Linked DNA regions of Homo sapiens. The protein of the gene in region 2 purifies or fractionates together with the protein of the main gene of each other region. This does not show direct contact. Each region holds a gene or a part of one and is shown on either strand. Other genes may lie near its edges.

Region 1 (7,424 bases), about 110 Mb from region 2:
CACCACGCCCGGCTAACTTTTTTTTTTAATTTTTAGTAAAGACGGGGTTTCACCGCGTTAGCCAGGATGGTCTGGATCTCTTGACCTCGTGATCCGCCCGCCTCTGCCTCCCAAAGTGCTGGGATTACAGGCGTGGGCCACGGCGCCCGGCATGAAACTTTTTTTTTTTTTTTGAGACAGAGTCTCGCTCTTGCGCCCAACCTGGAGTGAAGTGGCACGATTTTGGCTCATGGCAACCTCCGCCCCGCAGGATCAAGCTATTATCCTGACTCAGCCTCCCGAGCAGTTGGGATTACAGGCACCCACCACTATGGCCGGCTAATTTTTGTTTTTTGCTTTTTTGAGATGGAGGCTCGCTCTGTCACCCAGGCGGGAGTGCAGTGGTGCGATCTCGGCTCACTGCAACCTCTGCCTTCCAGGTTCAAGGGATTCTCCTGCCTCAGCCTCCTGAGTAGCTGGGACTGTAGGCGCATGCCACCACGCCCAGATAATTTTTTGTATTTTTATTATTTATTTATCTTTTTGTTTGCTTTTTTGGGACAAAGTCTTGCTCTGTTGCCCAGGCTGGAGTGCAACGGCACGATCTCGGCTCACTGCAACCTCCGCCTCCCGGGTTCAAGCGATTCTCCTGCCTCAGCTTCCCAAGTAGCTGGGATTACAGGCACCTGCCACCATGCCCGGCTAATTTTTGCATTTTTAGTAGAGACGGCGTTTCACCATGCTGGCTAGGCTGGTCTCAAACTCCCGACCTCAGGCGATCTGCCCACTTCCGCCTCCCAAAGTGCTGGGATTACAGGCGTGAGCCACTGTGCCCGGCCAATTTTTTGTATTTTTAGTAGAGACGGGTTTTCACCGTGTTAGCCAGGATAGTCTTGATCTCCTGACCTTGTGATCCGCCCGCCTCGTCCTCCCAAAGTGGTGGGATTACAAGTGTGAGCCACCGTGCCCAGCCTAATTTTTGTACTTTTAGTAGAGATGCGATTTCGCCATGTTGGCCTGGTTGGTCTCGAACTCCTGACTTCAGGTGGTCCACCCTCCTCGGCCTCCCAAAGTGCTGGGATTACAGGTGTGAACCACCGCACCCGGCCTTTTTTTTTTTTTAGATGGATTCTCACTCTGTCACCCAGGCTGGAGTGGAGTGGTGTGACCCTGGCTCACTGCAACCTCCGCCTCCGGGGTTCAAGCCATTCTCCTGCCTCAGCCTGCTGAGTAGCTGGGATTACAGGCGCCCACCACCACGCCGGGCTAATTTTTGTATTTTTAGTAGAGACGGGGTTTCACCATGGCTCGAACTCCTGACCTCGTGATCCGCCTGCCTCGGCTTCCCAAAGTGCTAGGATTGCAGGTGTGAGCCACCGCGCCCGGCCTGAAATAATTGCTTTTAAGCTTAACTCATCGTTTATCTTTTTTCTATATATATCATATATAATTTCTATATATATAGTATACATATATATCATATATAATTTCTATATATATATAGTATACATATATACTACTTTAATGCTTATAGCATGGTATAAATATGCCAAAACCAACCAATTCTCCAGTAAGTTTTAAGTTACTGAAAGAAGTGTTTTAGAAAATATTATCTTAACAGTTTTTGAAGGGGGCTACAAATAAGTTACCTCTTGTTTAGGAAGTTGGGGAAATTATTTAATTTCTGCATTTAAGAGCCTGGACTAGTACTGATTGACAGGGAAACATTTTCAAGCCATTAATTTGACCGGATATAACACGATATAAGGGAAGGGAGATGAATGGGATAACATTTTAAGCTTATGAATGGCTCTGAATATATGTACATTTGAACTCTGTTCTATAGTCACTGGTAAATACTGTTAACACAACGTTCCATTACCTGTGACAAATCAGAATTAGGTTTCTCTCTGAATCCAGTTACAATTATAGCATCCTATCCACCGCCACCATCATCGCCATTCAATTTTTAGAACAACTCAGTAGCTTCTGGGGATACAAAGATGTCCTGTAATTGTTATCTACAATAAGAGGGCGATTTAAAAATTCTTGAGATTCTGTATTATAGTGTTTTAATGAGTAGCCTACAGGCATGGGACTTAGTGGAACTGCATAAAAATATTCTGATGGGTTAAAAAACACCTCCAATTACAAAACACAGATACATGTGGAGGGAACAGAAATTATAAATTAAAACCATTTGTTTTTCAGCTGGGCTACTTCTTTGTAACAGAGAATGTATCCATTGGGTAGGAGACTGATTTTAACTGAGCAAAATCCTCCAGTTAAAAGTAACCTAATCCTTTTTTTTTTTTTTTTTTTTTTTTTTTTGAGACGGAATCTTGCTCTGTTGCCCAGCCTGGAGTGCAGTGGCGCAATCTCAGCTCACTGCAAGCTCCGCCTCCCGGGTTCACGCCATTTTCCTGCCTCATTCTCCCGAGTAGCTGGGACTACAGGCGCCCGCCACCACGCCTGCTAAATTTTTTGTATTTTTAGTAGAGACGGGGTTTCACCGCGTTAGCCAGGATGGTCTCGATCTCCTGACCTCATGATCTGCCCGCCTTGGCCTCCCAAAGTGCTGGGATTACAGGCGTGAGCCTCCGCGCCCGGCCACCTAATCCATTTTTTATATGTGACACTTTTATTTTAAGGGCTTAAAAAGTAATCCGGGCCGGGCGCGGTGGCTCACGCCTGTAATCCCAGTACTTTGGTAGGCTGAGGTGGGCGGATTACGCGGTCAGGAGTTTCAGACCAGCCTGGCCAACATGGTGAAACCCCGTCTCTACTAAAAACAGAAAAATTAGCCGGGCGTGATGGTGGGCGCCTGTAGTCCCAGCTACTCAGGAGGTTGAGGCAGGAGAAATCGCTTGAACCTGGGAGGCGGAGGTTGCAGTGAGCTGAGATCGTGCCACTGCATTGCAGTCTGGGCTACAGGGCGAGACTCCGTCTCAAAAAACAAACAAACAAACAAAAAACAGTAATCCGAACTGATTTAAACTTCTTTATTAACAGAATATATGTTCAAACAAAGCTTAAAGTCCCATTTTCTTTCCATTGGCGTCTAGGCCCCTATTACTCAACTATCCGTTGGTTAGGGCCTGCACCTCAAGGTAGGCTTAATTGTAAATCAAAATATTTACTATCCACACTTAGAGGGCTATCTGTAACATCGTTTTTATTTATCCCCGTCCATTCGATAATCGTCTGAAATGCAAGACATTAAGTTGAACATCATCCAGCTTTCTCCCTGTTTTTCTAAGCGCGATCCAAATCTGTTACAACAGGGTAGTCTCTCATTCTCTTGGTAGCTCAATTCTACCCCCTGGCCGACTTAAGAAATTTTGAGTCTAATACACCCACCTCATCTTTAGTCGGCCTGGTGCGCCAACGCAAATTTGTACTGAGTACCTTCGGAACTGACTAGTAAGTATATCCAAAGGTTTAGAAAGGGCTGGGTTAAGAGCTACAAGAAGCATTAACCGCAACGGCCACAACTAATTTGTATCCATTCTTAGTAACTTTAGGGAACCAGACTGAATGCTTCTCCCACCCTTTTGACTTTCCTTTATTAGTTCGCAACACAAGAACATACAAAAGACCGTAGCGACAACCATTTCTGACGCCTTCAACTTTTAAATCCAAATTACGTGAAACCACAAAGCATCAGTGGTGTCTCCCCGAGGAATCCAAGACCCCCCGGCCGGTTGCCAAGCCGCCGGAATTTCAGCAGGAGAGGAAGGCTCACCCTCCCACCGCATGGCGATGCCCGGGAGACTGGAGAAGCTCAGGCAGGCTTGGAAGCCAATCCCCGGCATACAGCAGCTCTCGGGAATGCAGAGCCCTAGAGCAAGACCAAGGGCCTCGGCCGACACTGAGAGCCTCCAGGGAGAGGTCAGGTCTCTCTTTCTGTCCTATTTCTCCCTTCGACTTCCCTCCCAGCAGGCTGCTATTGAGCATTCAGCAATCGCCAGACAAAGCCCTTCTGGTCTGCAGAACGCACTCCGGCAAGCCCACCGGGAGAACCAAAGCCGCCTCCTCGCCCCTGTGGGGAAAATGGCGCTCGTCACCCCGGCTCCCTCCCGGGTAATCACAAGGACCAGCCTCCCTCCCTCGCTACAAAATGGCGCCTCCCGCTGGGGCCCCAGAATCGGTATGACTCGCTAGTCAGTGAGGCGGGGTCCGTCTGGGATAAGCGGTTATGTCAACCAGTCAGACACAGGAGCTTTGATTCTGCACTTTGCGCGAGCCACTCAGGGGCGGGCTGTAAAGTCAGGCTTGGCTGACGTCAGTTGAGTGGGCGCGGCTAGGGCGGTTTTCTTTCGCGTCGACCAAACGTGGGCCAATGGAAAACCGGAAGCGTCCTGTGAGTGATGTAATGACAGCCCAATGGAAGCTGGGGGCGGGCCTCAGACACACTATGCGGGTTGCGGGGCCTGGGGGCCGGACGGCTGTTTCCTGTCCTGGTGCATGGTGGTCGGACGAAGGAATTGTTGGAAAATTTTCTCGGAGGTTCGTATATAAATGTGTTTTTACCCAGTGTGCATTATTCTCCGCCTGGCCGCCGCCCTCAGCGCGGCGGCGCGGGCCCGCTTGGGCCCGGGCTCCGGCTCCCGCTGCTCAGCCTCCGCCGCAGGCCTTGCCGATTTTATGGGCCGGCCGCGGTAGCGGCGTCTGGGCAGAAGCGGAGTTTATTAATAACCCGCGGCCGCCACTCTAGGCGGCGGAGCTTTTTTCGTTGAGGACTCAACTCCCCCCAGCTTGTCTCTGAGCGATGCGCCCCGCCTGTTTCCCTCAGGGGACCGCCAAGGGGAGGGAGTGAAAGAGGGGAGGGTGGAGCCCTCGGGAGCCTTGGCCGCGTTTCTCGGCCTGACCTCCGCGCAGAGCGAGTCCCCAGGCGCCGCCGAGGCAGAGTTCCGCCGCCTGGGACGCCGGGCCCACGGGCCACACCAGGCCGCAGCGGGGGCGCCGGGGACAGGGCTGGCCCAGGCCCTCCCAGGACCTGCCGGTCTCACCTAGCGCTTGCTTCCCATGCGTATCGTGGGCAGATTGTTTCCCCCTCACCCTTTCTTCTATTAAAAAAAAAAAAAGGTTACTGAGGTCTAACATCGGATATTAGAAATTTACAATTTTATCCTCCCTTTTCTCCAGTTTTGGCCAAAAGAGTGAACAAATTCTTATAAGTCTCTTTGAAACGTATTATTGTGGAACGCGAACTAGTTTTTATTCCTTCCCCTTTTGCTTTGGACATTTGTTTTTTCCACATAATAACGAAGTTAAAAAGAGGAAAGAAGAATACCATTGCCAGCCCATTATTTGTTTAAAATCAGCGTCAGCCTTTGCTTTGGAAGTGTCTAAATCAGCTGATATAATCAAGTGAGAATGTGGGGAGAAATTGTAGGTTCGAGATTGTGGTCGGCTTTGTCCTGAATCTTACCAGAAGATACTTGTGTTTTCCTGTAGTTGACAAAAAACGGTGCAGTATTTAATGTTTTTTCTTGCTGAGTATGTAGATCAAGTTTACGTTTAGTAAGAAAATAACGTGATAAGGAGATCACTCAAAAACACCCATAAGATGCATAGCTAATTTTGTCCTGGCGTATTTTGACTGTTTGGAAATTTTTTTTTTTTAATTGTCAGTGTCCACTATTTGGAAATTCTATGAGCAGTCAGCTGTCTACAGATACTTGAGTGCCTTTTTTTTTTTTGCTTTACAGATGCCCGCCTTTATTTTTTAAAATAGCTTTAGTGATGTAATTCACATACCTTACAGTTCACCCATTTAAAATGTGTAATTAGGCCTGGGCAGCATAGGGAGACGGCCCTCCCATGTTTCTACAAAAAAAATTTTTTTTAAGTGAAATCAGCGTGTGCCTGTAGTCCCAGGTACTTGGAGGCAGAGGTGAGAGGATCACTTGAGCCCAGGAGTTCCAGGCTGCAGTGAGCCGTGATTGTGCCACTGTACTCCCGTCTGGGTGACAGAGACCGGTCTCGAAAAAAAAAAAAGTGATAATTAGTTGAATTTTAGCCTGGGTGTGGTGGCTCACACCTGTAATCTCAGCACTTTGGGAGGCCGAGGCCAGCGGATCACCTGAGGTCAGGAGTTCGAGACCAGTCTGGTCAACGTGGTGAAACCCCCGTCTCTGCGAAAAATACAAAAATTAGCCGGGTGTGGTGGCAGGCGCCTGTAATCCCAGTTACTCTGGAAGCTGAGGCAGGAGAATCGCTTGAACCCAGGAGGCGGAGGTTGCAGTGAGCCGAGATTGCACCATTGCACTCCAGTCTGGGCAACAAGAGCGAAACTCCGTCTCAAAAAAAAAGTTGAATTTTAATATATTCAGAGTTGCGCAGCCATCACTACAATCAATTTAGCAACATATCACCCCCAAAAGAAACTATACCCGTTAGCAATTACTCCCCATTTCCTCTCAGTTGTCCCCTCCACCCCACTACTAGTTTGCATGTTTGCTATTCTAGATATTTCACATAAATGGAATCACAAAGTATGTAGCCTTGTCCAGGGTCATTTATGTTATAACATGTGTCAATACTTTATTTTTATTGCCAAATGATATTTCATTGTATGAACATAGTACATTTTACTTATCCATTCATCTGTTGATGGACATTTGGGTTGTTTCCACCCTTTGGCTATTACACATAATGCTATGAACATTTGTACGAAAGTTTTTGTGTGGACATAGGTTTTCATTTCTCTTGGGAGTAGAATACCTAGGAATAGAATTGCTGAGTCATATAGTAACTATGTTCAACCTTTTGAGGTACTCTAAAACTTTTTCAGTGTGGCTGCACCACGTTTACATTCCTACCAGCAATGTGTAAAGGTTCCAGTTTCTCCATATCCTTACCAACACTTGTTATCATCAGTCTTTTTGATTATAGTTTTTCTAGTGTGGATGAAATGGTGTCTCTTGTAGGTTTGGTTTGCCTGTCTCTGATGGTTAATAATGTTGAGCATTTTTTCTGTGCCTAACGATCATTTATAATCATTGGAGAAATGTCTGTTTGAATTCTTTACCCATTTTAAAGTTGGATTATTCGTCTTATTATGATTTGGTTGTGAGAGTACTTTATATGTTCTAGATAGAAGTCCCTTATCAGATACATGGTTTGCAAAATGTCCATAGTCCTTTGCTGTGTGTTGGAATGTTGCTGTGAAGTAAGGACTGGTTGTGTTCTTCACAGAAACGTGGCATGGCTGCATTGAACTGTGCCTCTACTACATGGTTTTATTTTTAAAATAAAAAACCACTCCACCCTCATAGCATAGTTCCATTTCTGGAAGGTAAGCACTGAATTTTTAAATGTTCATACAAGCATATACAGATAACTATATACATTTTTAAATAAATGAATGCAATCATATGGTATCTACTTTTCTGCAACTTGCTTTTTCCCACTTACCATATATCTTGGACATGTTTCTC
Region 2 (8,015 bases):
CAAAACTGACACTGCAAAATGCTGAGGAAGATGTGCAGCAGCAGGAATTATCACTCATTGCTGGTGGGAATGCAAGACGGTACAGCCACTTTAGAAGACAGTTTGGTGATTTCTTGCAAAACTAAAAATACTCATGCTATATTTATGATCCAGCAATTGTGTTCCTTGGTATTTACCCAAATGAGTTGAAGACTTATGTCCACCTGAATGCACATGAATGTTTATAGCAGACCTTATTCATCATTCCCAAACCTGGAAGCAACCAAGATGTCATTCAATTGATGAATGGATAAATTAGCTAGTACATCCAAACAATGGAATATTGTTTAGTGCTAAAAAGAAATGGGCTATGAAAAGATATGGAGGAAACTTAAATCCATATTGCTAAGAGAAAGAAGCCAATCTGAAAAGGCTACATACTGTACGATTTCAACTATATGACGTTCTACAACAGGTAAAACTATGGAAACAGTAAAAAGATCAGTGGTTGCCAGGAGTCTGGGGGGAAGGAGGGATGAATAGGCACAGCACGGAGAATTTTTAGGGCAATGAAACTATTCTCTATAACACTGTATGATGGATAAATGTCATTAAACATTTGTCAAAACCCATAGAATGTACAACACCAAGAGTGAACCCTAATGTAAACTGTGGACTTCAGTTCATAATAAAGTATCAATAGTGGCTCATCACTTGTTTAAAAAAATATCCAAATGAGCAGTATTTTGGTTACACTTTTATCAATATTATTCATATTAAACAACCATCTCAAATATCTGTGGGTAGTGCACATGCAAGGGTAATTTGATTTTCCATTTGAGACCATAATTTGCTCTTTGTGAATCTTCTTAACGCTGCTCAGTCTTCTAGTTTCCCCTTCCTTCCTTCCTTCCCTCCCTTTCCTTCCTTTCTTCCTTCTTTCCCTTCTTCCCCCTCCTCTCTCTCTTTCTTTGTCTCTTCCTTCCTTCTTTCTTCTTTCTTTCTTTGCCTTTCTTTCTTTCTCTCCTTCCTTCCTTCTTTCTTTTTTTTTCTCTCTCTCTCCCTTTTCTTTCTCTCCTTCCTTCCTCTCTCTCTCTCTCTTTCTCTTTTTCTCTCTTTCTTTCCAGAATCTCAACCCTGTTGCCCAGGCTGGAGTAAAGTGGTGCAATCACAGCTCACTGCAGCCTCGACTTCCCAAATTCAGGTGATTCTCCCACCTCAGCTTCTCGAGTAGCTGAGACTATAGGCACATGCCACCATGCCCAGCTAATATTTTGTATTTTTAGTAGAGACAGGGTTTCGCCATGTTGCCTAGGTTGGTATTGCACTCCTGGGCTCAAGCGATCCGCCCACCTTGGCCTCCCCAAGTGCTGGAATTTCAGGTGTGAGCCATGGTGCCCAGCCCTTCTAGTTTCTTGTCTAAATTAAACCGACTTGTTTTAACAGCATTTAGCCAGCATTCCCATCATGTATCCAAGAGCAGTTGTAAGGTCAGTTGTGATACAGTTTTTTCCAAGATATTTCATCTTTGGGCACATCCAGAATATTGCATATAATCTTTTTATTTTTCCAAAAATGCCATTATTATCAGCACAATTAGGCTGTGTCTTCTAATAACAAGTTCAACTATGTGCCATACAGGGGACATGTCACCAAAAAAATGCTTCTAGATTTTTGGCCAAAATCCTGGCTTGTTCATCTTTATTATCTTTACTAACCATGTCATTACTGTTATCATCGACTTGCCCTTGACAGTCTTTTAAATCAAAGACTAAAATTGCAAGTAGGTTTTTTCCTTAGTGCAAAACTAGGGAAAACTAGTTTTTCCTTAAGTCAAAACTAGAATATAGCTAGTTAAATACACATGCGTGTTTTCTCTATATTTACATATATGCAAATTTAAAGATAAATAGGAATTAATATTGAAAAATGTTCCTCAGCCACATTGCACAAACCACGTTAATTTCTTTTCTTCTTTCTTTCCTTTTCTTTTCTTCTTTTTCTTTCTTTCTTTTTTTTTTGTAAGATGTGTAGGACAGAGTCAGCACGGTGGCTCACGCCTGTAATCCCAACACTTTGGGAGGCCGAGGCAGGCAGATCACTTGAGGCCAGGAGTTCAAGACCAGCCTGGCCAACATGGTGAAACCCCGTCTCTACTAAAAATACAAAAGTTAGCTGGGTGTGGTGGTGCACGCCTGTAGTCCCAGCTACTGGGGGAGACTGAGGCACAAGAAGCACTTGAGCCTGGGAGGTGGAGGTTGCAGTAAGCTGAGCTCGTGCCACTGCACTCCCGCCTGGGTGACAGAGCGAGACTGTCTCAAACAAGTGCAGAAGAGCTGAAGAGCTTCTTCGGGCCTGAACCGTGTTGTTTGCAGAGCTGACGTTTGGGGCTATAGGCTTTTCCGTACCAGTAACGAGCACTGGATCCTGACTGATAGAGGACCCAGGTGCTCCTTTATGGAGACATTTGTTGTCTATGTTTGTAATACTTGGGGTCCTCTCAAGCTTGGGTGGCACTGGGAGGGAACAGGGTGGAGGGTACAAGGATGAAAGCAAACCTTCTGTGACTGTATCTTTTTATAAAGTTTTGACTTTGGGACCCTGTAAATGATTTGCATAATTAAAAAACAAAATAAAAAAAACCAACCTAAAACATGGCAATAATATAGATTTTACTGAATGCTTGATGAGGAGACGATGGGGAGGGCCGTAATATACACAATAGCACAAAACAAAACCCCTGAATTAGACATTCTTTTCTGGTTTTTCCAATCTCTTAATCCTCAGTCCTTCATAGTCTCTAAAAATCCCTTCTATTGTCCCAGCTAGAATCTTACGCTGAGCAAAACAAAACTAAACAAAAAAACCCCTGAAGTTAGCACAACAGCAGAAACCAGCTGCCACCAGAGCAGGCCTCCAGAGGGCTTTACACTACATCTTCCATTAGAAAATACTGCAAGGATAGGGCTTCTAGGTGTTCAGCTTTCTCAATATCTGGCTTATTTTCTTCTCAATCCCTGGGACTAACATTGTCAAACAATTTGAACTGCCTCCCCAAAGCCAGTTGGAGTCTTTGTCCCTGCCCAAAGCAGGATTACCTGCTAGGTTTCCTGGGAGTCAAGGGTTGTGGCTCATTAAAGAGGGCTTTGGATTAGTGAGTCTCAAATCACTCAAAGGGGAGGTCTTGGTCCTAAACGAATGGAAATTCTCTCTTAGAGGATCCTGCCAACTCTGAGAAGGACTTTACATGCTTCTTGGTGTGGAAAACTGGCCAGTTAATTGCACGCAGTGCAGGCACAGCACGTTTGCCAAGTTTGACTTTGGACATATTGTGTAGGAAGCACCAGTGGGATACCCATGAACCGTTCATGTCCAGGAAGCAGCTGGAGCCTGAAGTTTGCAGGACAGGTTCAGGCTGAAGACACAAATTCAGAAATCATCGTGTATACAGGAGAGGAGGCTATGATGGAAACAGAAAGAATATAGGAAAGGGTAATGATTCTGAGGCCAAGGGTGGAGGAAGTGGTGTCAAGTGCTGGAGGAAGATTGATTAATAACAACATAGTGTTCACTGGACAAATAAGATCCCTTAAGAGGAGATGGTACGGGCGATGGGATCAACTGTCTTGAAAGGGAGGTGGGCACATTCTCCAAGATTTGACACTGGCGGGAGGATGCGAGTAGGAAAATAAAAACATCAGCAACACATCACAACACAACAAACCATAACCTGGCCAGGGCCTGAGAGCAGGGAGAGAGAAAGGGTAGGAAGAAGCCAGAGGAGTTTCAGCGACTGCAGTCCTTCCTCTGCACTATAGCGTACCCCTACCACGATCCCAAGGCCTCAGTAAAGGTTTGCTGCACACCTCAGCTTCTTATCAGTGATGCTTTGGAGAATGAAGGACTCTGAGGCAGTGTTCAGGGCAGACTGAAGGAGGACGGACACTTTCAGGAGCCCAGGAGTGGAGATGGAGAATTCAACTCAAGTAGGAAATTCAGCAAAGGTGACCAGGGGAAAGATAAGTCCACTAGGAGTCTGCTAAGCATCCTTGGAGTTAGTAGAAAACGCCAGGATTCCCAATATATTTGGGATGGGGTTTCAAATATATTTTGACTATTGTTTGAGTATTAAAGAAAAGGGCAGGGCCGGGCTTGGTGGCTCACGCCTGTAATCTCAGCACTTTGGGAGGCCGAGGCGGGTGGATCACGAGGTTCAGGAGTTCGAGGCCAGCCTGGCCAACATGGTGAAACCTCGTCTCTACTAAAAATACAAAAATTAGCCGGGTGAGGTGGTGGGCACCTGTACTACCCGGGAGGCTGAGGCAGGAGAATCGCTTGAACCCGGGAGGCAGAGGTTGCAGTGAGCCGAGATCGCGCCACTGCACTCTAGGGTAGGAAGGCCCAGGGTAGGAAGCTGAGCGGTTTCTAAATCTGTAGCCCCTTTTTCTCAATGACAATGAAGTAATCTTCCGAGATGTTGAAAAACCTGGTGAGGAAAGTTTGGAATAGCAGTTTGGGAATCCCCTGTAATAATCTGCTTTCCCTTGTGAACAGCAGGCACTGTCTTAAAATTTTTTTGTATCCTCAATGCACTGTAGGAGTTCAATAAATGATAGAATAGATGAATAAATAGAAGAGAATGAGGAGACGGATCTGGGCAGGCTGCGAAGGCGGTGCTATTCCAAAGCCCAGCCCAGAGGCAGTGACCTCCGACCCAAGCCAAAAAAAAAACCTCGCGTTCAGAGGCCGGGAGAAAGAACAGCTCCCAAATTGAGGGGAGTCCAAGACCCTGCTCTTTTAGAGGGTGGGGCTAGGAGAGCGTATTTCGACGCTGCCCGCCAACGAACCAATCCCCGCCTAAAGGGGGAGGGGATTTAATCTGTCGCCTCTCCTTCCCTTTGGAAAGTAAATACGTTCGGGCGCCATTCAAACGGACCAATGAGTGATCGACGTTTTTGTGGTTGGCCTTCACCGATTGGCTGGAGTTTGTCGTCCCTCCCTCCTCGTCACGCCTCTGGCTCCACCCCTTTGCACACAAGATGGCGGCGCCCAGCGGAGTAGGGGCTGCGCTTGGGGTTTGCTGAAGCTGGCTGCCTCTCCCACTCCCCTTTTGGGTGCAAAGCGCCGCTAGCGGGAAGACGGGGGCCGGGCGGGGACAGGGGCACCTGCGTAGCTGGACTGAGAGCCTGCGCCCAGCTTACATCGACCCCACCCGGCCCCGGCCCGACCCGACGCGACCCGATCCGATCCGATCCCATTCCATCCGTTCCTCGTCTCCTCCCGGTCTGACCCGTTGCCCGGCCGTGGTTCGCCACACCAGGCATCCAAAGCTGAGGTCGCTCCTACGGCCTGGGCTCGCCTTCGCTTTAGAGATGTTTGGCCTCTTCCCTCCCAAACAGCCCATCTTCAAAACCTGGACTCTTGGACTGGCACCTGGCCACCTTTCCCTCTACCAAGACTCCACTTCCGTCTTACCCACTTCTTCCTCAGATTCTTGGTACCCCCTGGGTTGGAGACTGCTCATTTTCCTTCCAAATTAATCCCAGACCCCCTAAAATATTGACAACCTTGACAACCCCCCAACCGAGGAGCCAGACTTTGTTTTGGACTAACTTCCATAGCCCTATCATGGAGGCAGTGTACCTGGTAGTGAATGGGTTGGGCCTGGTGCTGGACGTGCTGACCTTGGTGTTGGACCTCAACTTCCTGCTGGTGTCCTCCCTCCTGGCTTCCCTGGCCTGGCTCCTGGCCTTCGTCTACAACCTGCCGCACACGGTACTGACTAGTCTTCTGCACTTGGGCCGCGGAGTCTTGCTTTCATTGCTGGCCTTGATCGAAGCCGTGGTCCGGTTCACATGTGGGGGCTTGCAGGCCTTGTGTACTCTGCTGTATAGCTGCTGCTCTGGCCTAGAGAGCCTAAAGCTCCTGGGGCACCTGGCCTCTCATGGGGCACTGCGGAGCAGGGAGATACTGCACCGGGGCGTCCTCAATGTGGTCTCCAGTGGCCATGCTTTGCTGCGCCAGGCCTGTGACATCTGTGCCATTGCCATGAGCCTGGTGGCTTATGTGATCAACAGCCTGGTCAACATCTGCCTCATCGGCACTCAGAACCTCTTTTCCCTGGTGCTGGCCCTGTGGGATGCAGTGACCGGGCCTCTGTGGAGGATGACGGACGTAGTGGCTGCCTTCCTAGCCCACATTTCCAGCAGTGCTGTGGCCATGGCCATCCTCCTTTGGACACCCTGCCAACTAGCCCTGGAGCTGCTGGCCTCAGCTGCCCGCCTCCTGGCCAGCTTTGTGCTTGTCAATCTCACTGGCTTGGTGTTGCTAGCTTGTGTGCTGGCAGTGACGGTGACTGTGTTGCATCCGGACTTCACCCTGAGGCTGGCTACCCAGGCACTCAGCCAGCTCCATGCCCGGCCATCCTACCACCGTCTTCGAGAGGATGTCATGCGGCTCTCTCGCCTAGCACTGGGCTCAGAGGCCTGGCGCCGAGTCTGGAGCCGCAGTCTGCAGCTGGCGAGTTGGCCAAACCGGGGAGGGGCACCTGGAGCTCCCCAGGGTGACCCTATGAGGGTATTCTCAGTTAGGACCCGGAGACAGGACACTCTTCCTGAAGCGGGGCGCAGATCAGAGGCAGAAGAGGAGGAGGCCAGGACCATCAGAGTGACACCTGTCAGGGGCCGAGAGAGGCTCAATGAGGAGGAGCCTCCAGGTGGGCAAGACCCTTGGAAATTGCTGAAGGAGCAAGAGGAGCGGAAGAAGTGTGTCATCTGCCAGGACCAGAGCAAGACAGTGTTGCTCCTGCCCTGCCGGCATCTGTGCCTGTGCCAGGCCTGCACTGAAATCCTGATGCGCCACCCCGTCTACCACCGCAATTGCCCGCTCTGCCGCCGGGGCATCCTGCAGACCCTCAATGTCTACCTCTGAAGCCTCCTTCCCTGCCTGCCCACCCCTCCATGCTCCACGCAGGCACTCACGCTAGGACAGCATTAACACCTCATCTCCGGGTCCTGGTCTGAATCCCCTCCTACCCCTGTGGCCATCCTGCCATACATCCAGGACATTGAGTTGGAAGACTATGATCTGGGTGGGGGCAGGATAACATGGCTTCTCTTTACCCAGTGGGTCCCTTCGATGCTGAGGGTGGTGAGTATGTCACTATGCAAGGGCCCTGAGACTATTTGCTGTGGGCTCTCCTCCAGCCTGCCCAGGGCCCACCCAGATGCCTCTGGGGTTACCCCTGTCTGCTTCTGGTTTTTCTGTTGGAGATCTATAGGTCCTTTTCCTGCCTCCTTCACATTTCCTCCCCAGCTTTTGCGGCCACAACACATCAGTGTCATTTGGGTGTTTTGGCAACTCAGGGGCCTTCGGATGATCTTAAACCTTTGTGTTCAGCCAGAGCCCCTGTGCCCTGGTAGGCGTTGGGGTTAGTATCTCTCGGGTGCCCTCAGAGCCACCTCTGCCTGTGATCGTCTGATGAGGCTCCCTCCCAACCTGATCCAAAAGCCAGTCTCAGGAGTTTACCCCTGGGATGGGGGATGCATCTGCACCTGACTTTGGGGCCACGTGCCCTGTGGCACCCCAGCTCACTGGGAGTCTCAGGAGGGATAACCGGATTTCTGCTCTTTCCCCTGTCACTCCCACATCACACAGAAAAATGGCATTCCTCTCTGTCTCTCCCTGGCATGGAGAGGGCAGACTGTGCACATTTCACTAGGGTCCAAATACAGAAGGGCCCAGGGCCCAGGGGCTTGCAGCTTCGTGAGGGGTCTCTGGCCCAGTTTCCAATGAATAAAGTTCTCTTGACAGCTCTGACAGTCTCTGTGTGCATCCCTGCAAGGGAGCAGTTGGTCAAGGCAACAGACCTTGCATCAGGGTCCTTCAGCCCCGCCAGAGTCAGAAGTGTGGGCTGTGGGGGTACCTGGGCTTTAGAGGGGGGACAGGGAAGGAGCTAAGATAGGCTGGGAAGACTATGTCATGGGGAGAGTGCATGCCAGGCATGGCTCTGTGAGCTCTCATCCCTTCTGATTTGT
Region 3 (7,216 bases), on a different chromosome or scaffold from region 2:
GAAGCCCCAGCCTACCAGGGGAATTCATACCACCTGCGCCAGAGCCCTCATGGGCCCTGAGGAAGAGCAGAATGGCTCAGCCCAGGCATACTAGATCCCATCATGCAGCTCCCTCAGGGTAGAACCGCCTCCAGGGACCTACCTCGACCCTGGGTTACATCACCCTCGAATCCTGGGCTGTCAGTTGCATGGTAGCCTCTGCCGGGACAAAGGCCCATGGCTGCTGCATGAAAGCCCAGTTTCTTTCTTTTTTTTTTTTTTTGAGACGGAGTTTCGCTCTTGTTGCCCAGGCTGGAGTGCAATGGTGTGAACCTGACAGGGTCAAGCAATTCTCCTGCCTCAGCCTCCTGAGTAGCTGGGATTACAGGCGCCTGCCACAACGCCCAGCTAATTTTTTGTATTTTTGGTAGAGACGGGGTTTCACCATGTTGGCCAGGCTGGTCTCGAACTCCTGACCTCAGGTGATCTGCCCACCTTGGCCTCCCAAAGTGCTGGGATTACAGGCATGAGCCACCTGTGTGGTGGTGACTGAAACTTGGCTGAAAGCCCAGGTTTTCTTTTTTTTTTTTTAATTTTATTTATTTATTTATTTATTTATTTATTTTACTTTTGAGACAGAGTTTCACTCTTGTTGCCCAGGCTAGAGTGCAATGGCGCGATCTTGGCTCACCGCAACCTCCACCTCCTGGGTTCAAGCGATTCTCCTGCCTCAGCCCTCCTGAGTAGCTGGGATTACAAGCATGTGCCACCATGCTCGGCTAATTTTGTATTTTTAGTAGAGACAGGGTTTCTCCATGTTGGTCAGGCTGGTCTCGAACTCCCGACCTCAGGTGATCTGCCCGCCTAGGCCTCCCAAAGTGCTGGGATTATAGGCGTGAGCCACCGTGCCCGGCCTGAGAGCCCAGTTTCTAGGGAAGAAGCTTCTCAGGGATGTGTCTCATGCTTCTGGGTTTTTAGCCAAGGCCTGGGGGCCAGGGAATTTTTAGGAAACTCTTCACTGTCCCCAAATAAAAAGACTTGCTCCCCTAAGCTTTTCTCTAGTTTGTATTCCAAGGGAACATCCTCCCTCCCTCCTCCTGTTTTTGGTCTACCCAAACTTCACCCAGGCTTCTAAGCTCTTTTACCCTTCCCCATCCCCGGTAGCCTTCCTAAGTACATCCTTCCTGCTCAGGGGCTCCTAATACTTCTCCCCGCATAGCCCCTGAGTTGGGGAAGATCTGGTCTGCCAGACTGGTTTCCTAAGTAGCACCTAAGCAGCCACCCTTCTCCAGGGTAAGAACATGATTTCCATGAGACATTTCAAATTCCAGATGTAGCCCACAGAACCCCATTGCTTCTTGGGGGCCGCAAATTAGAGATCATTGGTTGATGGTGTCTACCAAATGTGACTGTCATCCTGTCATGAGTCCTGCCTAAATGCCTCCGATGATGGTAATATTAGCATTTATTGCCTCTGCTTACGAGGCATTGTCCTAAGCACTTTTACATGTATTAACTTACCTAATCCTTACAATAACTCTAAAATGTAGATACTGTTATTCTCCCCATTTTATTTTATTTATTTTATTTATTTATGTATTTTTGAGACGGAGTCTCGCTCTGCCATCCAGGCTGGAGTGCAGTGGTGCGATCTCAGCTCACTGCAACCTCCACCTCCCTGGTTCAAGCAATTCCCCTGCCTCAGCCTCCTGAGTAGCTGGGATTACAGTCGCATGCCACCATGCCTGGCAAATTTATTTTGTATTTTTTAGTAGAGACGGGGTTTCACCATGTTGGCCAGACTGGTCTCGAACTCCTGACCTCAGGCAATCCACCCGCCTCGGTCTCCCAAAGTGCTGGGATTACAGGCATGAACCACCGCGCCCGGCCGTATTATCCACATTTTACCTGAAAGGAAATGAAGGCACTATGAGGTTAAGTAACTTGCCCAAGGTCACAAGGCAAGTTAATGGCAGATTTACACCCAGGCTGTCTGGATCCAGAACCCTCACTGTTAACCACCACACTACATCACCTCTCACGATGCAAATTGTGTGGCCCCATCCTATATTCTGAATCTCCTCTCCTGCCTGGCTGGCTATATTGTCTATTTCAGAATCTTTGCTCACACCACTCTCCCAGCCCAGAGCATCTGTCCCTCTGCCTCTCCAAATCTCATTCTGCAGGACTCCCTTTCTGCAGCCAACCCTAACTGCCCCACCTTCACTGCTCCCAGCTAGCCTGGGAGCTTCCCAAGGGCAGCACAGGCCTGGACCCTCCAGATGCTAGATAGAGACACTGTGGACAAATTTAAGTGAGAGTGGGGTAAGAAGTACTATGCTGCTCCCTTGGGGTGGGGAGGTGCTTAAAGTGGAGGGAGAGCAGGCCATGTGGGAGGAGGAATCCTGGGAGCTAGTGTGAAAGGAGTCCTAGCGAACTTCTCAGGGAGGCAGCAAGGGGTCTAGCATGGAAGGTCTTCACTGCTTCTCCCAGCCCCTGTGAAGCCCGGTTCCTGAGGCCCTGGACCCATAACGCAGGCCCCAGAGGATATCATTGTCCTCTGATACCCAAGTCAGACCTTAGAGGCACCAAGGGCATTGAGGGGAACAAGGGATCCCTGCATCCAAAGTCAGGCGGGAGCACAAACAGGGAGGGCGAGCACAGGAAGTGGGACCGCGATGATGGACGACCCCTGAAGCAGCAGCTCCCTAAACCCGCTAGCGGGACACCCGTAAGCGTCCAGAATAGTGGGCCCGAAGGCACAGGGATGCGGCTGTGGCCTTGGAGGACACATGACGAGGCAGGCCTGAGCAAACTGGATGTGCCTTGATACAGGCCACGGCGAGAATCAGAGATGGGGGTCCGACGGGCCCCGGGGGGGGTACCGTGGGGGAACACATCGGACGGGTACCCTGGGTCAGCGCTCTCCGCGACTCTCCTAGCCCTGGGCCGGGGGCAGGAGGGGAAATCACCTGCTCCGTCGGGCGCCGCCGGCGACTTGTCCCGCGCGGTGCAGCTCTCATCCCCCAGCCCCACCAACGAGATCAAAGGCGGGGCCCAGAGCGGTTCCCTTCCAGAGGCGCCGTGGCGGCCATGTTTGAGAAGGGCAAGTTGCCCACAACAGGGCGGAGCTCCTGCTCTAATTCTCTAACGTCCCAGGGCTATGGACGGGCTCCCTTGGCGGCCAGTTTTGTTGCGCGTAGGGAGGCGTTAGGCGTGAAGGTCTTGAGAGGGGGTGGAGTCGAAGTGGGTAGGACTGCATCCCCGTCTTGTTCCTTCTCATCCGTCAGAGACCCGAAACCTTTCTCTTTCTTTCTCTCTCTCTTTTTCTCGTCTCTCTCTCTCTCTCTCTCTCACTTTTTTTTCCTTTTCTTCTTCTTTTTTTTTTTTGGGAGGGAGCCTCGCACTGTCTCCCGGGCTGGAGTGCAGTGGCGCGATCTCGGCTCACTGCAACCTCCGCCTCCCGGGTTCAAGAGATTCTCCTGCCTCAGCCTCCCGAGTAGCTGGGATTACAGGCGCGCGCCACCACGCCCAGATAATTTATTGTATTTTTAGTAGAAACGGGGTTTCACCATGTTGGCCAGGCTGGTCTCAAACTCCTGACCTCGTGATTCGCCTGCCTCGGCCTCCCAAAGTGCTGGGATTACAGGCATGAGCCACCGCGCCTGGCCTCTTTTCTTTTCTTCTTTCTTTATTTTCCTTTCTTTCCCTCCCTCCCTTCCTTCCTTCTCTTTCTTTTTCTTCTTTTCTTGCTGTTACAGCCCCAGGCTGGAGTGCAGGTTCACGAGTGCGAACATGGCTCACTGCAGCCCCGACCTCCTGGGTTCAAGTGATCCTCCCATCTCAGCCTCTGGAGTAGCTGGAACCACAGGCGCGTGCCACCACGCCGAGCTAATTTTTTTTTTTTTTTTTTTTTTTGTAGAGACAGGGTTTTTGCCACGTGGCCCAGGCTGGTCTCTTAGGTACTGACTTCCCCACCCTGTCTGTACCTTTTGCATTCCCTTAACAGCAATGTCTCCCCTAGATTGGGGTGAGCTACAGGTCTGTGTCTCCGGAGGGTGGAGCCTGGGATTTTGGACGTGGTCTGGGAGAGGTGGAGTGGTAGCAGGTGCCAGGATGAGGATCCACCTGAGCCCTGTCATGGACAGCCTGTAGACCATGCCTACCCCCCGGGGCCTTCATCCCCCATGTTGGCAGGGCTGCTTGTCTAGGACAGGAGAGCTGAACTCCAGGGCCCAACAAGACTTCAACTTCCTCTTTTTGTTCCTGCTGCCACAGATTCCCGGTGCTGCCCTGTGGGGAAGCCCCACAGCCCTCCCCTCTTGGGAACCCTGAAATGGGTCACAAGGGGAAGAGTCCCCTTCAAGGATAAAATTTCCCATCCCCCATCAGCAGGGATGAGCCCTTTTTAGTGCTAGTTCCTTCGTGGGGTGCTGGGGACCCGGAAGCTGTCCCTGCCCTCAGGGAGCTCACAGTCCAAGAGAGAAGTCCCATCTTTCCTCTCTCCTAGGGACTAAGGCAGTGCCAAGATACTATGCTGCAGTGGCTCACACCTGTAATTCTAGCACTTTGCAAGGCTGAGGTGGGAGGATCGCTTGAGCCCAGGAATTTGAGACCAGCCTGGGCAACATGGCAAAACCTCGTCTCTACAAAAAATTTAAAAAATAAAAAATTATCTGGGCATGGTGACACACGCCAGTAGTCCCAGCTACTCCAGAGACTGAGGTGGGAGGATCATTTGAGCCCCAGAGGTCAAGGCTGCAGTAAGCCGTGATTGTGCTACTGCACTCCAGCCTGAGTGACAAAGCAAGACCCTGTCTCAAAAAAAAAAAAAAAAAAAAAAAAGAAGAAGAAAAGAAGGAGAAGGAAGAAGAAGAAACTATGGAGAAAACGGGATGACTGCTTATTGCTTTCTCTTCCACCTCTGGTCCTCACAACAGCCTCCTTCCTCTTCTGGCCTCAGAGACAGCAAGATGTTGGCTGCTTGGGGGAGGTAGCAGGGAAGGAAGGGGCACATTCGCGTCGCTTTGCCCATAAAAACACTGCCACTCCAGCCTGGTGATACTAGGGTTAATGAGGGGTGGGGTGACAGCGACTTTGAACTCTGGCCGGGCAGGCCCCTAGGAAGGGGGTGATGGGCAGCCCACAGCCCCAGGCCTTTGCCTGTCCTCCAGAGACCAGCCATCCCTTTCCTCCCCCGTCCCCTTTCCTGCTTCCCCCTGTCCATTGCACAATACTGATGACTCTTCTCTCCCTACCACCCTCCATTCCCGGAACTTTCAAGTTTCCTCAGTAGAGCTGCCCTGAGTTCTGGCCCAAGACCCCTGCAAGCCATTTCTGACTGTGTGCCTTCCCCTCTCCCCTATCCCCTGTTTGCTGGATGGCAGCTGCATGTGACTTGGTATCAGAAAGAACTTCCTGAGCTTTCAAGGGAGGAGGATGGAAAAGACTTCTTAGGGGGAGTCCCTCCTTTCCCAACTCAAACTCTGGGGAGTCCCAGCTCTGTGCAGCAGGAGTCAAGTTCTGGGGGGTCGAGGACAGAAGGTGGGCTGAGGAGAGGGAACCCCACAGACACAAGGACACACACATACTGTAAGGTAGGGGCTCCCGGGATCCCTGCCCTGAGGGATTCTGAAGCTGGCTGGAACTTCAGCCCCTGATTTTCTTTCCCCTCAGGTCTCAGTCTCTCTCTCCCCAAAATGGGAACAGACTCCCCACTGCCCTTTGGTACTGCTTGAAGCGGCACAGAGCTAAAGGAGGCAGAGGGATGCCTTTTCACCGCCATTCCTTCCAGTGAATTTTGCAGCTGGTGTTTGGGTGCCTGGATCGCCTTAGCTGGTGGGAAAAGCTAGAAACCTACGCTGAGGCTTCCCCTAGCACCTCCATTCCCCATCATCCTGCTTCAAAATGAGAAACTGGACTTGAATTTGGCATAAAGGGCAGATTTTTCAGGCAGAGTAGAGAGAGAGCCCAGCGGGCTGGTCTCAAGGGGTGGGAAGAACTCAGTTAGAGACCAAGGTGAGGAAGGGGAGGCTTCAAAGAATGGCGGGGGCGGGGTCCCGCTCTGGCTTGAGGTTAGAAAGGGCTCTCTGGGCAGGGTTCCTGGCCCTCCCACACCTTCCTCCTTTCTCAGAAGAGCCAGCATGGGGCGGGGGCGGGAGGCGGCTGGGGCGGGGGTGGGGGCCTTATTTAAGGAGCACCGGCTGAGAACATCGTTGCAGATCCAGCCCCAGGAGCCATAGAGAGGAGGTTTCGTGGGTAAGTGGCTGTCCCTCTCTCTGGATTCAAGCAGGGGTCGGGATGGGGTGCCCCTGAGGCGCAGGCTTGGCTTTCCCTCTCTGGGATAGGCTGCAGCTTTGCCATGTGAGTGAGGGGAGCACCCAGCCCTCGGCTGAACTCTCCAGAAAATGAAAGTGTGCTTCAGGGAACTCTTTCTCCTCCACTCCACTATCCCAGGTACTTCAAATCTTTATTCAGGGTTTTGGGGAGATTTCTGGGGAGCTAGGACTCCTGGGCTGGGCTCCTATCTTGGGGATCCATATCTTGGGGACTCCCTTTAGCTCAGAAAGCCCCTTGGTTTGCATAGAGATGCCCTTCTCAGTGTGCGTGTTCTGGCTCTTTCCCCAGCCCCTCACCCCTCCAGCCCCACATCAGGCCCCACCAGGAACACATCTGGGCAGGAAGCGACAGATGGATCCCTGCCATGGCCCTGAGCCCCCTCCCCTCTTAACCTACTCCAATTCCTGTTGGAATTTATGGAACTCCTGTCCATTTCCTTAGCTGTGGGCCCCCATTTTCAGCTCCAAGCTCAGACCCTCCCTGGAATAGGAGTTCTCTTGGTATCACAAGTTCCTTATGTGACCCATCCTGGGCCTCAACTTACTCATCCTGGGAACGGGAGACGATTCACAGAAGAAAGCATGCAAGAGCAGCGTCCAGGCTGAAAGAACTTTGGCCACCTGGCACTGAGAACTGAATTCCATAGGCTGTGAGCTCTAGCAATGCCCTGTGGACTCAGTTCTGGTGCCCGGCAGTGCTACAACATCAATGCCAAGGCCGTGGGGCAGCTGATGGTTTGGGCTCCCAACTTCCCAGCCAGGTGCTTCTGCAGGCCCACATCTTGCCCACTGGCCAAACCTTTAAATAACTTTGACTCGGGCTACTCTTATGCTCAAAGACGTCAGGGGCTCTCCCAAATCTCTTTACCCTGCCAGAAAGTCTTCTATAGTACGGCCTC
Region 4 (5,470 bases), on a different chromosome or scaffold from region 2:
GCAGAGTGCCATCTATTCCTTCGTTGGTGGGCCTATCTACTCTTCCCTTGATTGGTCAATTTCTTAGGAACCTACCAGTATCCTTTTGGCCATCCCTATGCCTCTGCCATCCATAAAGTGTGGGTGACTAAGTCAGTCACATATTTAAAAGCTAATTACTGCCACCATATGTAAGGAAAACCAAAGAGGCAGCTGGAGCAGACCAGGCAGGCCCAACAATTTGAGGTTATAAAAATAGAGAAGGAATGATTCCAAATGAAGCTTCCAAGGAAATATCTGCAAGAACTGGTGATACTCTGGAGCAAAGCAGGAGCAAGACACTGAAGAGACTCTGTGTAAAGCACAGTGGTGGCACTGACACCACTCATCATTAGGGCTATTTCTTCATTCCACTCTTCATTGCTAGCACCCAGTTCCTCTCAGGTAATAAACATATGTTCAGGTAACAAATGATACACAAATTAAAAAAATGATACACAAATATCAAACTAAAGACAAAGTACATACATTTGCGTTGGCAATGTTTAATGTTTCACTTTTGCAGAACTGAAATTTGTATTCAAAGGCACAGAAGGAAGGAAAGGCAGTTATCAGAGCATGAAGTCACAGATAAAGGATGCTGAATAAAAGCATAGGACTGCTCCTCTTTAGCCTTAGGAAAATAAATAATGCAGTATTAAACTAGATTTTTATTTTTATTATATTTCCATGTGAAGACATCACCCAAATGTCAGCGGAGCAAAAGACTTTATGGTCAGATACCAAAGGCGTACAGTTGATCCCACTTTGGAATAAATGCCCAGAAGGTAATAAGCATTATCAGTGAGTGAGAGCTCTAGGCACAAAATAAGTTCTCATTCAGAAAGTGGACAGAGATATGAAGCAGTGAAACATATAGCTTTAAAAACTGGAAATCATTCATGACATTTGTTTTCAAAGTAAACATTATCTGCATTTCAAGAACTGTAATTTTCAAAAGTAGAATCAGGCCTGATTAAGTAATATTTATGACTTACAGATAAAATTACAAAAATAAAAATGAAAACTCTTCTGCCCTTGAAAGAGATAGAAAACTATATTTTTTTCCCTGTAATGTCACAGAGATTCATCAGTATTTCATCCTTATGTCGCTTAAAAAATGTTATTTTTAATTCGTCTTTCCTGTTCTGCCACTTTTAACATAGCAAAACGTGTTTAATATGGCCATCTCTGCTGAGTGAAAGGATGTATTATTTACTGCATGAATGAGAAGAAGCTACAATTTACCTCCAATGGGATCATATCTACCACGTGGGAAAAAAAGATAAAGACACGGATTTTCCAAAAAACAAAAGAAACAAACAAACAAAAAAACCCCACAAAACTCAATGATTTAAAATATCCTATACATAATTTCTAACTTCAAAGCACTATGAGAAACTCTTGATCACTGTGTAGCAAGAAAGGGAAGAAAGAAATTAAAAATTTGGTAGAATAGGAGAGCATTTTTCTAACTACTTTCATTTAAATAACATTGGCCTTACCAACTATTACCTTTCTTATTTAAAACACTGATTCACCAGGTGAAATCATAACAGCATGAAAGTAAGACCAGATTTCAAGTTAGGTGTGAGCACAATGATTCAGGACCACTGTTTCCACCTCACAGAAAGGATTCCTGTGGTGATGCTCCCTCTTTCAAACATATGCCCTCAAACACCTCACATGCAGATTCCATATAAGTATACAAATAAAACGAGTTCTGTATTTTTCCAAATAATTTTACAACTTGATGGTAAATTAGATGTCAAAGATAAAACTATGCCTTTAAAAACATTAAGCTTCAAAATTCATTCAGTGTTTTAAGAAATGAATTATTAAAATCATTTTTAAAATGACATATTAAATGTATTTAAATCTGGGCTTTTCTGTACTTAATTTTTCTTCTAAAAAAAAGTTTAAAAACATCAAGAGCTGGAACATGCTGCCAGGACAGAAATAATCAGAAATGTCTTCAGTCACAGATCCTGGACATCTCAGTGTTGCTTCATAGTTTTCAAAGCTTGAAGTCTCTCTAGCAGTGGAGGATGAGAATAATGCCACATTGAGAACAACCAGTCAGAAACAGGGAATCCCAAGTTATCTTTGTTAAGTTTGATTAAAGCAGAATATAAGTCTTTAGCCTTCCCAAGTTTCTTGGCAAATGCATCAGCTTGAAACTCAAATCTGCGGCTTAGGACTGTTAGGCAAAAAGAAAGAACCTGAAAAAGAAAATGAAAGGGTTTTAGCCACTGCCCACCTCTTTGTTGTTACTAAAGGTTCCATGAGCTGAGACTGTAGAGAAGTTTGGCTTGGGATAAGAGGAATGGCAGGACAAAAGAAAGATCACTAATATTTAGGGGACCTAGGGTGAGGAAATTATAAATTGAGCCTTATTCTCCCCCAAGCAAACAGGCCAGAAACACATATAAAAGTTAAACATCCCTAACCAAAAACTTGAAATCTGAAATGTTCCAAAATCTGAAACTTTTGAGTGCTGACATGAGACTCAAAAGTCATGCTCAGGCCGGGTGTGGTGCCTCACACCTGTAATCCCAGCACTTTTGGGAAGCTGAGGCAGGTGGATCACCTGAGGTCAGGAGTTCGAGACCAACCTGGCCAACATGGTGAAACCCTGTCTCTAGTAAAAATACAAAAATTAGCTGGGCGTGGTGATGGGTGCCTGTAGTCCCAGCTATTCAGGAGGCTGAGGCAGGAGAATTGCTTGAACCCGGGAGGCGGAGGTTGCAGTGAGCCAAGATGACACCCCTGCACTCCAGCCTGGGAGACAGAGCGAGACTCCATCTTAAAAAAAAAAAAAAAAAAAGAGTTTTAAGATAATACATCTCAGTTCTCTGCCAAATTTATTTTTGTTTATGTGGACAATGCTATATGAATATGATCTATGCCCCTCCATTTTTCTTTCCTGGTGTCCCCACCATACATAATAGAAAAATATAATTCATTTAGCTCATCTTAACTCTACAATCTATCCCAAGAAAGAATTCTTCTGAATGGAGATACCTCAAGATCTTCAATATTATTTCTTAGCTTAATTTGGAAGCCTTACCAAACATCATGAAATGATGCCATTGTCAGGTTTGTTATATAGTCTCACATTAACCTATGTATTATCACTCACACGGAATACCCCTAATGAGCTAACACAGAGCAATGTTCTTAAGTTTCATTTACCACAAAATACCCGATTTTGATTTTGTGGGTTTGGGTGGATCCCTCAGGCTATATGGAGGCAGGTGGTCATGGAGCAGAGGAACAGTCACTAAGCCTCCCTTACTGAGCTGTACCAATTAGTGTTTGCTTTGTCCCCTCATACACATAAGATTTTTACCCAAGCACTGGTGAATATGTGGCCTAGGACACAACATTCCAATAGTTAATCTCCATCTACCGAGTCCTTTTAGGTGTTCACCACTGAAGTCTAGTTTTCTACTTATACTTTCCTAAGAGTATGCAAACGTTTATTTATTTGGGCTTGAATTTTTCTGCTACTTTGTCATACTGACCAGTGAATCAGGGGACTAAAAGACTTTGTTTCATCTATTTGTTAAAACTGTACTGTTCTATTTCCTTTTTCACTATCCTGAAAGCTCTAGATTTGAAGCAGGCAAGAGCATATGTGTGATAATTTTAAAGATCATACATTACCTCATTGTAAGGTGAAAAAATAAACTGGAAGATGATCAATAGTCCAATAAGAGTGGGTTGGCTATCATAAAAACCAAATGCAGCAAAAAGCTCCTTTCGACCAATTAATACAGCAAATAAAAAAAAACACAGGAAAGAATTCATCTAGAAAGAAGGACATGAAATTTCTAAGTTATTACCAAGCTGATTTCACTATGGGATCAGTAGCATCCATAAAGTATAAGAAATCACAGTGTGGCCGGGCGCGGTGGCTCACGCCTGTAATCCCAGCACTTTGGGAGGCCAAGGCGGGTGGATCACGAGGTCAGGAGATTGAGACCATCCTGGCTAACATGGTGAAACCCCGTCTCTACTAAAAATGCAGAAAAAATTAGCCGGACGTGGTGGCGGATGCCTGTAGTCCCAGCTACTCGGGAGGCTGAGGCAGGAGAATGGCGTGAACCCGGGAGGCGGAGCTTGCAGTGAGCTGAAATGGCGCCACTGCACTCCAGCCTGGGCAACAGAGTGAGACTCCATCTCAAAAAAAAAAAAAAAAAAAAAAAAAAAATTCATAGTGTGATTTTAAGAAAGGTATTAGTGTGATCACAGAACAAATTATTTAAGTAGCTTTTTTTGAGACAGATCTCACTCTGTCGCCCAGGGTGGAGCTCAGTGGCACGATCTCGGCTCACTGCAAGCTCCGCCTCCCATGTTCACGCCATTCCCCTGCCTCAGCCTCCCGAGTAGCTGGGACTACAGGCGCCCCCCACCATGCCCGGCTAATTTTTTGTATTTTTAGAAGAGACGGGGTTTCACTGTGTTAGCCAGGATGGTCTCAATCTCCTGACCTCAGATGATCCACCCACCTGGGCCTCCCAAAGTGCTGGGATTACAGGCATGAACCATACTGCCCCGCCAGTAGTTTTTAGTTTCACTTTTATTTCAAAAGTAAAATAAAATGTTCCCAAATGTATAAACTGTATCATTTTCTATAAGGGCAAGCTTAAGTTGAGGCTCCTATCATTGAGGGTTTGAAGTGGTCAATAGCAATGGGATATTTTCTCTCTGTAAAAGGGTGAAGGGCTAGAATGGATTCTGGCCTTGTTTTATAACACTGTAATCAGATACAACGCCTCCCACCTGACTTTGAAGCGGAGGCTCCAAAGAAACAGGCTTCCCTTGAATCCTCTCTAGGCCCACTGGAGCTGTACCAGATAGTTAGAAAGGTCAGGGGGAAAAGTAGATCCATCTTGATCAATAAATGAGAGGAGAAAAAAATAAAAAATCTATACCAAAATACAACCTCTTGGAGTAAGGTTGGAGAACACACAACATTCTTTTTCTGTGCAAATTAGGATCTTGGAGGCCACATGTACCTTATTTAAGTGTGTTGCTTCAAACCATTTGACCCAAACGAGATGACCCAAGAAGCTGTCAGCTTAGAATGGGGCTTAGAGCATAAGAAGGCTCACCAGCTGCCCCAGGACAAGCAGCTTCGACACTCATCCTTATAACTCAGTGGATCCAATATGACAAGCTCCAACAGAAAACTCAGTGAAGTCTCCTACACTTATAATCTATGCATCCACTTTTGTCAAGTAACCATTGTCCTTTTGAAAAATAACTTTTGGTTTGCTACTGGGCCCTACTACAGACTGAATTCCTGGCCATGGGATACTGTGATCCTGCAAACTGAACTATCCCTTCTGAACTGGGTGCTATGTTAATCTGTTAATCTGCCTAGCCAGGAAACTGCTATGCGCAGAAGCACTTCATCATCAAGGACAAGTGGTAGATATAAGAG

What was found.
Region 1: the proteins of RNF26 (region 2) and ZNF143 purify together in Homo sapiens (affinity purification with mass spectrometry; 3 studies listed by BioGRID and IntAct, with this or other methods). This does not show direct contact.
Region 3: the proteins of RNF26 (region 2) and CUEDC2 purify together in Homo sapiens (affinity purification with mass spectrometry; 3 studies listed by BioGRID and IntAct, with this or other methods). This does not show direct contact.
Region 4: the proteins of RNF26 (region 2) and ZMPSTE24 purify together in Homo sapiens (affinity purification with mass spectrometry; 3 studies listed by BioGRID and IntAct, with this or other methods). This does not show direct contact.

The regions. Positions count from the first base shown.
Region 1 is NC_000011.10:9,456,589-9,464,012, forward strand, and holds the start of ZNF143 (zinc finger protein 143), read left to right. Parts: upstream 1-4,423; 5' UTR 4,424-4,446; coding exon of another isoform or gene 4,447-4,488; exon of another isoform or gene 4,489-5,452; intron 5,453-6,690; exon of another isoform or gene 6,691-7,282; intron 7,283-7,424. UniProt on the Homo sapiens protein: Transcriptional activator. Activates the gene for selenocysteine tRNA (tRNAsec). Binds to the SPH motif of small nuclear RNA (snRNA) gene promoters. Participates in efficient U6 RNA polymerase III transcription via its interaction with CHD8.
Region 2 is NC_000011.10:119,329,516-119,337,530, forward strand, and holds RNF26 (E3 ubiquitin-protein ligase RNF26), read left to right. Parts: upstream 1-5,011; 5' UTR 5,012-5,607; coding exon 5,608-6,909; 3' UTR 6,910-7,794; downstream 7,795-8,015. UniProt on the Homo sapiens protein: E3 ubiquitin-protein ligase that plays a key role in endosome organization by retaining vesicles in the perinuclear cloud.
Region 3 is NC_000010.11:102,429,575-102,436,790, forward strand, and holds the start of CUEDC2 (CUE domain-containing protein 2), read right to left. Parts: upstream 3,001-7,216; 5' UTR 2,952-3,000; intron 1-2,951.
Region 4 is NC_000001.11:40,289,215-40,294,684, reverse strand, and holds the end of ZMPSTE24 (CAAX prenyl protease 1 homolog), read right to left. Parts: intron 3,832-5,470; coding exon 3,688-3,831; intron 2,241-3,687; coding exon 2,016-2,240; 3' UTR 505-2,015; downstream 1-504. UniProt on the Homo sapiens protein: Transmembrane metalloprotease whose catalytic activity is critical for processing lamin A/LMNA on the inner nuclear membrane and clearing clogged translocons on the endoplasmic reticulum.